4 separate regions of the Homo sapiens genome follow, and regions 1, 2 and 3 are each reported to be linked to region 4. Evidence: microRNA targets listed by miRTarBase, many of them from high-throughput screens and not tested one by one. Region 4 holds a microRNA gene; each other region holds the end of a gene's coding sequence.

Evidence for each region. The annotated mature microRNA hsa-miR-8081 reads CUUGAGUCGUGCCUUUCUGAAUG and lies in region 4 at 1,303-1,325, opposite strand. An mRNA with a match to its seed (bases 2 to 7 or 8) in the 3' UTR can be bound and repressed. Matches are read on the target gene's strand: a 7mer-m8 pairs with bases 2 to 8, a 7mer-A1 pairs with bases 2 to 7 and ends in A, and an 8mer does both.
Region 1: the mRNA of BCL2L15 is a reported target of hsa-miR-8081. Seed matches in the 3' UTR shown: 7mer-A1 at 890-896.
Region 2: the mRNA of MRPS21 is a reported target of hsa-miR-8081. Seed matches in the 3' UTR shown: 7mer-A1 at 2,553-2,559.
Region 3: miRTarBase lists RPS16 as a target of hsa-miR-8081. Seed matches in the 3' UTR shown: 8mer at 632-639.

What each region holds. Positions count from the first base shown.
Region 1 is chr1:113,878,703-113,881,702 of GRCh38, forward strand. BCL2L15 (BCL2 like 15) reads right to left here. Exons shown (of 4, transcript NM_001010922.3): 4 at 1-2,438. The coding sequence ends at 2,421. All of the region lies in intron 3 of AP4B1-AS1 (AP4B1 antisense RNA 1), which reads left to right. Among named protein-coding and RNA genes, the nearest start is that of BCL2L15, 7.4 kb to the right of the region's middle.
Region 2 is chr1:150,307,725-150,310,887 of GRCh38, reverse strand. MRPS21 (mitochondrial ribosomal protein S21) reads right to left here. Exons shown (of 3, transcript NM_031901.6): 3 at 1,909-2,840. The coding sequence ends at 2,660. Among named protein-coding and RNA genes, the nearest start is that of PRPF3, 12 kb to the left of the region's middle.
Region 3 is chr19:39,430,732-39,433,894 of GRCh38, reverse strand. RPS16 (ribosomal protein S16) reads left to right here. Exons shown (of 5, transcript NM_001020.6): 3 at 134-230; 4 at 326-373; 5 at 477-758. The coding sequence ends at 622. Among named protein-coding and RNA genes, the nearest start is that of RPS16, 3.6 kb to the left of the region's middle. RefSeq lists an enhancer at 2,332-2,451.
Region 4 is chr9:106,599,152-106,602,314 of GRCh38, reverse strand. It overlaps MIR8081 (microRNA 8081), which reads right to left and starts at 1,387; the gene lies at 1,293-1,387. The region is part of intron 8 of LOC107987108 (a long non-coding RNA gene); the gene reads right to left.

The DNA.
Region 1 (3,000 bases), not on the chromosome of region 4:
ATAGTAACATAAGGGACAAAGGAGTACAAGTTTCTTAACTGGTAGCCAAAAATATAATTTCTACTAAAGAGAAACAGGACACATCATTTATGGATTACTAACTTGTTGTGATTTAACTAGGAATAGAGGAAAAAGCATAACTTTATTTATTTTCTTTTTTTTTTTTTAGACAGTTTCGCTTTTGTAGCCCAGGCTGGAGTGCAATGGCGCGAACTCAGCTCACAGCAACCTCCGCCTCCCAGGTTCAAGTGATTCTCCTGCCTCAGCCTCCTGAGTAGCTGGCATTACAGGCACGTGCCACCAAGCCTGGCTAATTTTTTGTATTTTTAGCAGAGACAGGGTTTCACCATGTTGGCCAGGCTGGTCTCAAACTCCTAACCTCAGGTGATCCACCCGCCTTGGCCTCCCAAAGTGCTGGGATTACAGGCATGAGCCACTGCGCCAGGACAAAGCATAACTTTAAAAAGCAAAAATGTATTAACAGCACTACATATTTACTTCTCTGCATTTAGAGGAGATACATAGATGGCTGGCTGATAGAGGGGAAGTGGTTAGCTTTGTTAAACTTTAGCCAAAGTTATTAATGCTGCTTTTCATGAATCACTGTAGCAATGCCTTTCTTCTTGATATTTAGGAAAGTAGTCTGGTTTTTGGAGTCTCTACCTGATGACTGCCTACTAATCTATTAGATCATTAAGGACTATTTTGAGATACAAGATCATACAAATCATAAGCTTTGCTTCCAATCACTCTCACTTGTAGGGCCAGAGAAATGGACTACTCAGGAGCTACAGAGCTCTCTGATTGGCTGAAGACCCAGAGAAACTGTGGATTATGCAAGAACTAACAAACATATGGAGACTAAGTTCCCAAAGAAGAGTTAAATATCTTTGAGTTTAAACCCTATCTACAGCTGTGTTTGCTGGAATTGTCAGGACTGTAATAGAGTTTCAGTTACCAAGGAGAAATGTTGATTTAGAGAAGGGGTCAGCCAACTTTTTCTGTAAAGGGCCAGCTAGTAAATATTTTGGACTTAACCAGCCATATGGTCTTCTATAATCATTCAACTCTGCCATTGTAGCACAAAAGCGGCCATGGACAATATGTAAACAAGTGAATGTTGCTCTATTCCAATAAAACTTTATTTACAAAATAAGACAGCAAGCCAGATTTGACGCGTGGGTTGTAATTTATCAATCTATTCTCTATAGTGATGGCTGTCACACTCTATATGTACATCAGAATCACCTATGGAACTAGTTTAAAAGGTAGGTTCCTAGGCTCCAGCCTACCCCTACAGAATCAGAATCTCTAGGAATGCGAATCAGCAATTCAATAAGGTCCACAAGTGGTGTGTGAACCACACTTTTAAAGCTTTGTGTTATGCAGCTAGCTTCATCTAAGCTGGGGTGGCCTTGCTGTCCTAGATGTGGGCCAGCACTTCCTGCATCCTGTGGCAGTAAAAATGGAGTAACTTTTATTTTCTTTGACCTTCCTAGTAGAAACAACTGTTTTTGTTTGTTTGTTTGTTTTTTGCTTCCAACCTCTAAAATGCATAAAATAGTCCTTCTCAGGTGAAATTAACATGAAGTTTAGGGATGATTTTGAATGAAAATGCTCAACTTAAAATAACAAGATTTTAGGCCGGGCGTGGTGGCTCACGCCTGTAATCCCAGCACTTTGGGAGGCCAAGGCGGGCGAATCACGAGGTCAGGAGATCCAGACCATCCTGGCTAACACGGCGAAACCTCATCTCTACTAAAAATACAAAAAATTAGCCGGGCGTGATGGCGGGCTCCTGTAGTCCCAGCTACTCAGGAGGCTGAGGCAGGAGAATGGAGTGAAACCGGGAGGTGGAGCTTGCAGTGAGCTGAGATCGCACCACTGCACTCCAGCCTGGGTGACAGAGTGAGACTACGTCTAAAAAAAAAAAAACAAGATTTTTCAACCAAAAAGCTTCCTGAAATCCTTTAAATTGCAAAATTAGTAGGCACAATTCTTACCAAAAGACAGGGCTACATCTGAAGAAATAGTTTCCATTGTTCTCCCTTTCTCTCAAAATACCTCCAGCAAAGGCCTGCCCTGTTGCTTATAATTCCACTACTAACAAGTCATTACTTTGTGTCTAGGGGTCTTTGCTTCAACAGAACCTCATTAAAACTCATGTGAAAACAGAAAGTAGAAAATCTCTGTGGTTTGCATTAAGTTGACAAAACAAAACAAAACAAAAACCAACTCTGCAGGCCTCTGGCAGCTGCTCCCAACTTTAACAATCAGTAAAAAATAACTTATTCAGCTAAGTTCAGTTCTGATAAAATGAAAAAAGTGCTTTTTTATTTGTTTGTTTGAATTCCCAGGAATCAATCACCCAATCAGTCAACAAGGAAGTGATGTTCAGTCTCGTGAATAGCTCCAACTCTTCAGCTCTCCAGATTTTCCTAGGGAAGACAGAGAAAATCCTACAGTCAAAGGAATTGCTTTCAGGAACTTCCTAAGAAACCAGGAAATGATCTGCAGATAGCTCCAGGAAATGTAGCTCTTATTAAGGCTTTCACTGACCCTGTAAATGGAAAGGAGTGCTCTATGACAGCATAAGTTCTGATGATTACTAAAACATGGGCTTAGAATACCTTATATAGTTACCACTACAGCAAAGACTGTTTTTTCTTAGATACTATTAAGGTGATTCTGACTTCCCTAACACACACATAGAGAAGTTAGGAAAAAAAGACCCAGAAATTTACAAAGGAACGGAGTGAAGCCAGGCTGAAATTAGAACTCTATCATGAATATACTTTATAGATGATTATGTGTAGGAAATGAAGATTAGCTTTACAGTAGTCAGCAGTCAATATTTAAGGTAGCATGACTCGAGTCCAACATCCACAGGCTGAGCTTCTGTCTGCTCCATTTTTCCATGGCAAGAAAATCTAGGCATTTTCAGCAAAATAGGGAAGCCTGTTTTCCTGTTGGTTTCCAATTTACAAAAAGGGTCATGAA
Region 2 (3,163 bases), not on the chromosome of region 4:
ATTGCAAGCTCTGCCTCCCGGGTTCACGCCATTCTCCTGCCTCAGACTCCCAAATAGCTGGGACTACAGGCGCCCGCCACCATGCCCCGCTAACTTTTTTGTATTTTCAGTAGAGACGGGGTTTCACCATGTTAGCCAGGATGGTCTCGATCGCCTGACCTTGTGATCCGCCCACCTCGGCTTCCCAAAGTGCTGGGATTACAGGCGTGAGCCACTGTGCCTGGCCAGCACCAACTTTTAAAAGAGACCGAGTCTTGCTCTGTCGCCAGGCGCGATCTTGGCTCACTGCAACCTCCACCTCCTGCGTTCAAGTGATTCTCCTGCCTCAGCCTCCCAGGTAGCTGAGATTACAGGCGCCTACCACCACGCCCAGCTAATTTTTTTGTATTTTTAGTAGAGACAGGGTTTCACCATGTTGGCTAGGCTGGTCTCAAACTCCTGACCTCGTGATCCGCCCGCCTCAGCCTCCCAAAGTGCTGAAATTACAGGCGTGAGCCATGGCACCCGGCCTGGCACCGACTCTTAATAATAGCAACACGGCTGTCAGCCAACCAATGGTGGAGGAAACAGCAGGAGAAAAAGCAGAGCAGCTGGTCTTCCCACAGTGGTCAGTTTCCGCAGCTGTCAAGAGTAAAATAATCAGGAGTGACTGCTGGGTAGAGGCAGTGATGGTGGGAACCTCCACTTGAAGTCTCTTTGAGTACTGCAAAGGGCAGTGGTTGTAACTCTAGCAGGCATCAGAATCACCTGCAAGGCTTGTGAAAATAGATTGCTGGGCTCCAACCTCAATTTCCAATATCGAAGATCTAAAGTAGGGTCCCATAATTTGCATTTCAAGCAATCCCTCTGGTGAAATTGATGCTGCTGATCTGACACTTTGAGAAGCACTGCTTTGTGGGTATTTCTGGCTCTGTGCCATTCTCTCTCAACGCTCCATTCCCTCTTTCCTACTATCTACTGAGTCCCACCCATCTATTGCTTTATTTCTTCTCCACCATCCCTCTCTTAGTCTCTGTTAGGAAAACTAAAAGGACAGAAAACAGGAATGAACATTAGGGTAGATTTAAGAATTTCTTTGGGCAAGGATTCCAGCACTCTAGTCTGGTTGATAGGTGTTTTCAGAAGCAGAATTTATTCCAAATACATACATGCATCTTCTCCTCTCTACCTAACATGGAACAGTTTAATAAAAAGTAATAGATGCTTTCTCAGTAAGATTTTGCTTGGGGATTCAAAAAAATTGGGTAGGAAATGGTAGACATATTTCACTACATTAAAAAAATTTTCCGGCCGGGCGCAGTGGCTCACGCCTGTAATCCCAACACTTTGGGAGGCCAAGGCAGGGGGATCACGAGACCAGGAGATCGAGACTATCCTGGCTAACACAGATAAACCCCATCTCTACTAAAAACACAAAAATTAGCCGGGCGTGGCGGCGTGTGCCTGTAGTCCCAGCTGCTGGGGAGGCTGAGGCAGGAGAATGGCGTGAACCCAGGCGGCGGAGCTTGCAGTGAGCTGAGATTGTCCCACTGCCCTCCAGCCTGGGCAACAGAGCGAGACTCCATCTACAAAAAAAAAAAAAAAATTTACCAGCCAGGTATGGTGGCTCATGCCCATAATCCCAGCACTTTGGGAGGCCGAGGTGGGCGGATCACCTGAGGTCAGGAGTTCGAGACCAGCCTGGACAACATGGTGAAACCCCGTCTCTACTAAAAATACAAAAATTAGCTGGGCGTGGTGGCAGGTGCCTGTAGTCCCAGCTTCTGGGGAGGCTGAGGCAGGAGAATCACTTGAACCCAGGAGGCGGAGGTTGCAGTGAGCCTAGACTGCACCATTGCACTCCAGTCTGGGGGACAAGAGCGAGACTTCCTCTTAAAAAAAAGAAAAAAAAATTCCTTACTTCTCCTGGACTTTCAAAAAAGTTTTTATTGTAGTAAAACACAAAATTTACCATCGTGACCATTTAAGGGTATAGTTCAGTGGCATTAAGTACATTCAACTTTTTGAGCAACCGCCATCACCATTCATCATCCATCTCCGTTTTTTTGTTTTGAGATGGAGTCTCACTCTGTCGCCCAGGTTGGAGTGCAGTGGCATGATCTTGGCTCACTGCAACCTCTTCCTCCCCAGTTCAAGCAATTCTCCTGCCTCAGCCACCCAAGTATCTGGGATTACAGGCGTGCACCACCACGCCCGGCCAATTTTTTTTTGTATTTTTAGTAGAGATGGGGTTTCACCACATTGGCCAAGCTGGTCTCAAACTCCTGGCCTCAAGTGAGCCGCCCGCCTCAGCCTCCCAAAGTGTTGGGATAACAGGCGTGAGCCACCATGCCAGGCCATCGTCTCCTGAACTTTTTCATCTGCCCAAACTGAAACTCTGTACCCATTAAACAATAACTCCTCACTGCCCCCTCCTCCAGTCCCTGGCAAATACCATTCTACTCCTAGAGTACTTTCAGACTCAGTTTCTTCTTTCACTTAATAAAAGACAGGGTCCACTGCTGACTAATGGGATTGTTTCTATATTTGGAGGCCTTCTTGCAGACATGTGATTTGAGTTTATTGCAGAGAATGGTAATAGGAAATGGGATTGTACAAAGAAAAGAGATGGAGAGAAAACTGGATGAGGGTTTCGCACTGGGTGTCCCACCCACAGGCCTCAGCAGCCCTGCCACGGATCTGCCCGATTCTTTCGCATCAAGAAGTTGATCTTGCGAGCCATTTCCATGTTGTAGATCCGCCGGCACCTTTCATAGCTTTCCCTCTGTCGCCGGCAGCATGGCTTCTCATAATACCGCCGATGCTTAATGTCCTCAATGAGCCCATCCATAGTGAGGATTCTGTATAAAGGCAAGCAATGAGGTTAGACATTTGGGATCATCATTATTCTTTTCCAGTTTCATAAATAGAAGTCGATTGACCAAACAATTGGTATTTATAAAAAATACAGTGGGAAATGGTGGCAATAGAGCATTAACTGCCTACTTACAAAGGCCTCAATAAGAATCTGTGGGCCGGGTGCAGTGGCTCATGCCTGTAATCCCACCACCCTGGGAGCCCAAGGTGAGCAGATTGAGCCCAGGAGTTTGAGACCAGCCTAGGCAACATGGCAAAACCCTGTTTCTACAAAAAATAAAAATAATTAGCCAGGCTTCGTAATATG
Region 3 (3,163 bases), not on the chromosome of region 4:
GTGACACCCTGACCCCCATCCACTAGTACTTGAAGGCCAGTGGTGGCAGAAGCCACAGAAACAAGAAGCCCAGTGAGATGGCTAAGCTGCCCAGCATGTAACTTAAATCCCTGTTCATTCCCCATTCCTTTAGCTGCTGGAGCCAGTTCTGCTTCTCGGCAAGGAGCGATTTGCTGGTGTAGACATCCGTGTCCGTGTAAAGGGTGGTGGTCACGTGGCCCAGATTTATGGTGAGTCCCAGGAACTGGGCGCATGGAGGAGGTGGCTCTGGGAGGGAGGCCTTCACAGCGCTCCTGTACCCTTTAATTGTGTGTCTTTCTCACAGCTATCCGTCAGTCCATCTCCAAAGCCCTGGTGGCCTATTACCAGAAATGTGAGTGAGCATGGGTCCTTCCCATGAGGTAGATGGGTGTGTGGGGATCAAGTCAAGGACTCTGTGTGATTATCTAAATCCTCGTCCCTGCTCTTCTTGCCAGATGTGGATGAGGCTTCCAAGAAGGAGATCAAAGACATCCTCATCCAGTATGACCGGACCCTGCTGGTAGCTGACCCTCGTCGCTGCGAGTCCAAAAAGTTTGGAGGCCCTGGTGCCCGCGCTCGCTACCAGAAATCCTACCGATAAGCCCATCGTGACTCAAAACTCACTTGTATAATAAACAGTTTTTGAGGGATTTTAAAGTTTCAAGAACTGTGTGTGGCCTTATGTGTTGGTATTGGATGTTTAACCAGACAGAAATCAGTAAACATCCTGGACCTATTGCCAGTCTGGATTTTGACCCTCCCCAGAAGTGGTCGCGCTGGGCTTGGTGTGGGTGAGTGGAAGCAGAAGGCAGGGGGTCTCTGTCTCTACACCTCCAGTAGAGTCCAGTGTGCAGGCAAAGCTGAGATGGCAGTCGTTTGGGGCCATTAGTGGCTGCAGACCTTGGCGGATATATGGCTCATCCTTGTGGATGTCTATTTTTTTCAAGCCCAGCCTCCCAAATAGCTTGGATTACAGGTACCCACCACCACGCCATGCTAATTTTGTATTTTTAGTATCGATGGGTTTCACTGTGTTGGTCAGGCTGGTCTCAAACTCCTGACCTCAAGTGATCCGCCTTCCCGGGCCTCCCAAAGTGCTGGGATTACAGGCGAGAGCCACCACCCCCAGCTGAATTTTTGTTTTTGTAGAGACAGGTCTCACTATGTTGCCCAGGCGTGGTCTCCTGACCTCAGGCAATCCTCCTGCCTCATCTTCCCAATGTGTCCAGGTTACAGGTGTGAGCTACCATGCCTAGCCAATAATCTTTAATACAAAGAAAACAAGGAGAGTCGGGCACGGTGGCTCACGACTGTAATCCCATCACTCTGAGAGGCCAAGGCTGGTGGATTACAAGGTCAGGAGTTAAAGATCAGCCTGGCCAAGATGGTGAAACCTCATCTCTATTAAAAGTACAAAAATTAGGTATGGTGGCAGGCGCCTGTAATCCAGCTACTTGGGAGGCTGAAGGAAAGAATTGCTTGAACAGGCGCCTGCCACACCCAGCTAATTTTTTTTTTTTTAAGTAGAGACAGGGTTTCAACATGTTGGCAAGGTTGGTCTTGAAATCCTGACCTCAAGTGATCACCCGACTCTGCCTCCTAAAGCGCTGGGATTATAGGCGTGAGCCACTGCACCCAGCCTAATTTTTGTATTTTTAGTAGAGATGGGGTTTCACCATGTTGGCAAGGCTGGTCTTGAACTCCTAACCTCAAGTGATCCTCCTGCCACAGCCTCCCAAAGTGCTGGGATTACAGGCATGAGCCACCATGCCGAGCCCAAAGTGGCATTTTGGACAGGTAACCGGGCTGTGGAAGACCCCAGGTTCTTTTTTTTTCTTTTTCTTTTTTTTGAGACAGAGTTTTGCTCTTGTATCCCTGGCTGGAGTGCAATGGCGTGATCTCGGCTCACCGCAACCTCCGCCTCCCGGGTTCAAGCAATTCTCCTGTCTCAGCCTCCCGAGTAGCTGGGATTACAGGCGCCTGCCACCTTGCCCAGCTAATTGTTCTATTTTTAGTAGAGACGGTTTCACCACGTTGGCCAGGCTGGTCTGGAACTCCTGACCTCAGGTAATCTACCCGCCATGGCCTCCCAAAGTGCTGGGATTACAAGTGTGAGCCGCCACACCTGCCCCCCCCCCCCCGCCTTTTTTTTTTTTGGAGACGGAGTCTTGCTCTGTCACCCAGGCTGGAGTGTAGCTGCACAATCTCAGCTCACTGCAACCTCCGCCTTCCGGGTTCAAGCAATTCTGCCTCAGCCTCCTGAGTAGCTGGGACTACAGGCAAGTGCCACCACACCTGACTGATTTTTGTATTTTTAGTAGAGACGTGGGTTTCACTATGTTATCCAGGCTGATCTTGAACTCCTGACCTCAGGTAGATCCCCCTGCCTTGGCCTCTCGAAGTGCTGGGATTAACAGGCGTGAGCCACCGCGCCCGACCTAGAGCCCAGGTTCTTGACTACTAGTTTAGGTTGTCACAGATCTGCTCAAGAGGCCCCATCTCTACCCTGTGGCCCCTCAACATGAGGAGCTAAGGAGTCAGGGTGGCCGCTTGTGGGAAAAGCACAAGAGGCTGTGGGACTCAAGCGGTGCCTGACAGCCTGGAGGAGTCAGGTGGACTCCTTGGGGGAGAGGACATGGGAACCAGGGTCTGCTGGCCGGTAGGAAGAGTAGCCAGGGAGACCATGTCTGTGATGAGTTGTTTTCGGGTGTCTGTGGCCTCAACTTGCTCATTCACTTTCCTTGAACACCTGTGCCGGGCCATGTGCTCGTCATGGGGCACTGAGTGACCACAGCCCTCTTCCCCCTCCCAAGGAGTCACAAATGACGCAAGGGTTGCTGCCGGTGCTGGAAGAGGAGTTGGGCTTCAAAGCACAGTGCATCCTCAGCGTTTTGTATAGGTGCTTGGAAACGGACTTAAGCAAAACAAGCAGATCCTGTAATAACAGTCCTTTAAACAAACTGGTTTCCTTATACGTCGTTTCGCTTAAGGTCACGGTTTCCCAGAACCTATTGATGACGTTAAGTGAGGACTTCGTTGAGTGGCTAATGACTCATAGGAAGCGAGTGAACTTCATTGTTTGGGGAGCGCAGAGATTTCTACTTCCTAGTTCCAGCCTCTGCAGCCAATAGGGAAGTCCCGC
Region 4 (3,163 bases):
CCTTGACCTACCTTGATACCACTGTCCTTACTTTTGCTAGAGATGTCAGTGTCAGACACATTTCTCAGTGCCTGTTCTTGATACCCCTTTCCTAACCCCATTTTTGGCTTTGCTCTCCCTGTGAAAACTTTACAACTGAAAGAGGTTCCACTACATGACACAAAGCCAAAGGCAGGACAAGGGACTGCAAAGGCTCCTACAGCAAAGTCTGCAGTGTCATAGGACAGAGGGAGTGAGCTCCATCACCCTTGGCACCTAAGCAACAAGAGGCCTGGCCTAGTTTCATACACCCCAGAGAACCCTTAACTAAGCAGGTGGTCACACCAACTTGAGACTGTGCTTCAACTGTATCTGTGTCCTGAGACTGTGCTTCAACTGTATCTATGTCCTGAGAAAAGCCAACCATGTCGTTATGCATCAGCCAATGCAGTGCAACAGAATAGTACATGCTTTGGAGCCAGGGCTACTTGGCTTGGAATCCTGGTTCTACTCCTTGCTAACTGTGTTACCTCAATCAAGTTTCTTAACTTTTCTGAGCCTCAGTTACCTTATCTATAAAATGGGGGTAATTGTACCTGCCTTTCACTATCATTGTAAGAATTTAGAGATAACAATTATAAAATACAGGACATTGCATATAACATACAATATATCGGGTTTATTATTATTTATTTTTCCTTGCTATTTTTGTCATTATTATTGTCATGACAGGGCCTTAATGTCCAGATTCTAGCAAGAATAGTGAACATTTCAAATATCCAGGCAGCTCATTTCTTGAGAGATGGACCACAGGCTTCCTCACACACTAGGCTGGTTGCTCAGTGTTGTAAATCACCACTTGGCTTCCTGCCTGAACTTTTAATCTTGTCCCCATCTCAATTTAAAGAGGGTGAGAAAGCAGAGACATCAATCGTTTCCTTGTCAAGGACAACAGCCCCTTCCTTCTTCCTTGGATCTCTCCTGGGGACCCATCTGCCTGGTGCCAAGGGAGGGGGCTGCTGCTGAATACAAATCACCATGTGGTGGGGGAGTCTTGTGCTTCTATATCAGCCAGGAGCCATTTCACCATCCCTGTGTGAGACTCCAATGAGCCCAACCCAGTCCTCCCACTGCTCCTGGGGTTAAGCGCCCCACTGCTTCACAGTCACCCTGGATAGTGATGTAACCATGAAGATGGCAGTTACCCAAGGTACTGGGACACAGACTTTATTGATTTGTTCTTCTAATGTATTAGGAGGAAACAGGAAACCTCAGGAAGGTCATAAGCGACAATTGTGCATTGACTGGCACAGACATTGACTTCATTCAGAAAGGCACGACTCAAGTGGCCTTGCTTTCAGAGAGGAGGGGGGCCATAGAGGCAAGACTCAGAAAATAAAGACAATAAGCACGAGCTGGATCACAGGGAATCAGAAGGAACTGAAGAACCTAACGCTCAAGCTCACACTTGAGGGAAAGTCTTTGTTCAGTTCCTGGTAGAGCCAGATGTTCAATCGATGTTGCTAAACAATTGGATGAAGGCATAAACCAGCAAGGGTGATCCCCTTAGAACTTCCTCTATTGATTTTCTGGGCACCTCTGTACCATTTTCCCATTTGATTCTGTGGTTACATGCCCTTCTTTCCATCTCTTTTTCATGATCTTTAAAGCTGAGCCCGTCAGATAACTTTTAATGGACTCCCGCTGTTTTCTTCAGCTTTCAACCTCTTGCGATGCGCCCTGTAATCACTGACCACTGCAAAAATCAGAATGGCACATTTGAAGATCTCCTGGACTTCCTGTACCCTCTTTTCTTCTAGGTCTGTGTTCTGGATATTTGGGGTTTACCTCTCAAACGTTTTGCCTTCCCTGATGATTTTATTAATGAGAAGTGCCGTCTTTCTTCAACGGTTATGGTTATTTCAACTTTATCATCCAATTCTCACTTTCTTGTGAGCAATTATTCCAGATGAGCATTTGAGTTAACTGGGTGTGCCTCCTCTACAGATAAGTCTCAGCCATTCCGTAAAAGGGAAGTTGAGATTCTCGGGTATCAGGTTTAAAACACTGAATCTTTAAGACAAGGTGAGGTTTACTTTCAAAGCATGGTGTGGAACCTCCTAAAGAAAACTGTCTATGAAGCCATATCTTTCTAAATGTTTGGCTTTAATCAATTCAGCAGACTTTTGGATAGGATCCTAAGGTCTCTTCTAACCCCATAACTACAGTTAAACCATTAATCCAGAACTCAGTGGAACATTGCAGTTTTTCTAGAAACGGTTCTCTACTGATTATTAATACTGAAAAACTATAGACCACCAAGCAGAGATGGACCTTCAAACCACTCTTTTGTTTAGGCTTTTGTGGGCTCTGTACAGGCAACAGATCTCCAGTCCTGGTTTTAGCATCCATGTAAAACACCATCTTGGCAGAAGGAGAAGCAACAGAAAAGTGCTATCTCCAGTGAAAGACGTAATGCGGGGGTTTACTCATAAGCAGTGTAGAGATTAAGGACAAAGCCTTCTGTACAGCTCAGATTCTAACACACGGAGGTGATTAGTCCCAGCTCTGCAAGCTACTCTCTCTGTAACTTAGGCACATGACTTAAACTTTGTAGCCTCATGTTTACAGGGGATTACTAATAAACTAATAATGGCCTCATGTTTAAAAGGGATTACTAATAAACTGTTTTGGGAGTGCTATGAAGATAAGCAGACAATGAATTTTAAATAGCCAAGCACATAGCAACTGCTCAATAAGAAATTGTTGGTTTCCCCCTCCTGCCCAGGATACCAGTGAGTTCTGGACTAATAATTTGGCTTCAATCATAGACTCATGGGCTTAGAAGGAACCTTAATATCATATTTTAGTATAAAACATCTAATATTTATTAACCACTAACTATGTGCCAGGCAATGTGATAAACAATTTGAAAATAATATTTTATTTATTGAGATAACAGATATTATACTCATATTTCAGATGAGAAATATGAGAAAAGTGGGGCTCCCATGTATTAAATAATGTTCCTTAGGTCATGCAGCTAATCACTGATAAAGCAGAGATGCACATCTTGGACTTTCTCACTCCAGAGCCCATTCTCTTAACCACATTGTTGTAAGAACATTTTAGAATGAGAAATCAGTGGTATGACTTTAATAAGCTAAAAAATCAGTGAACTGTA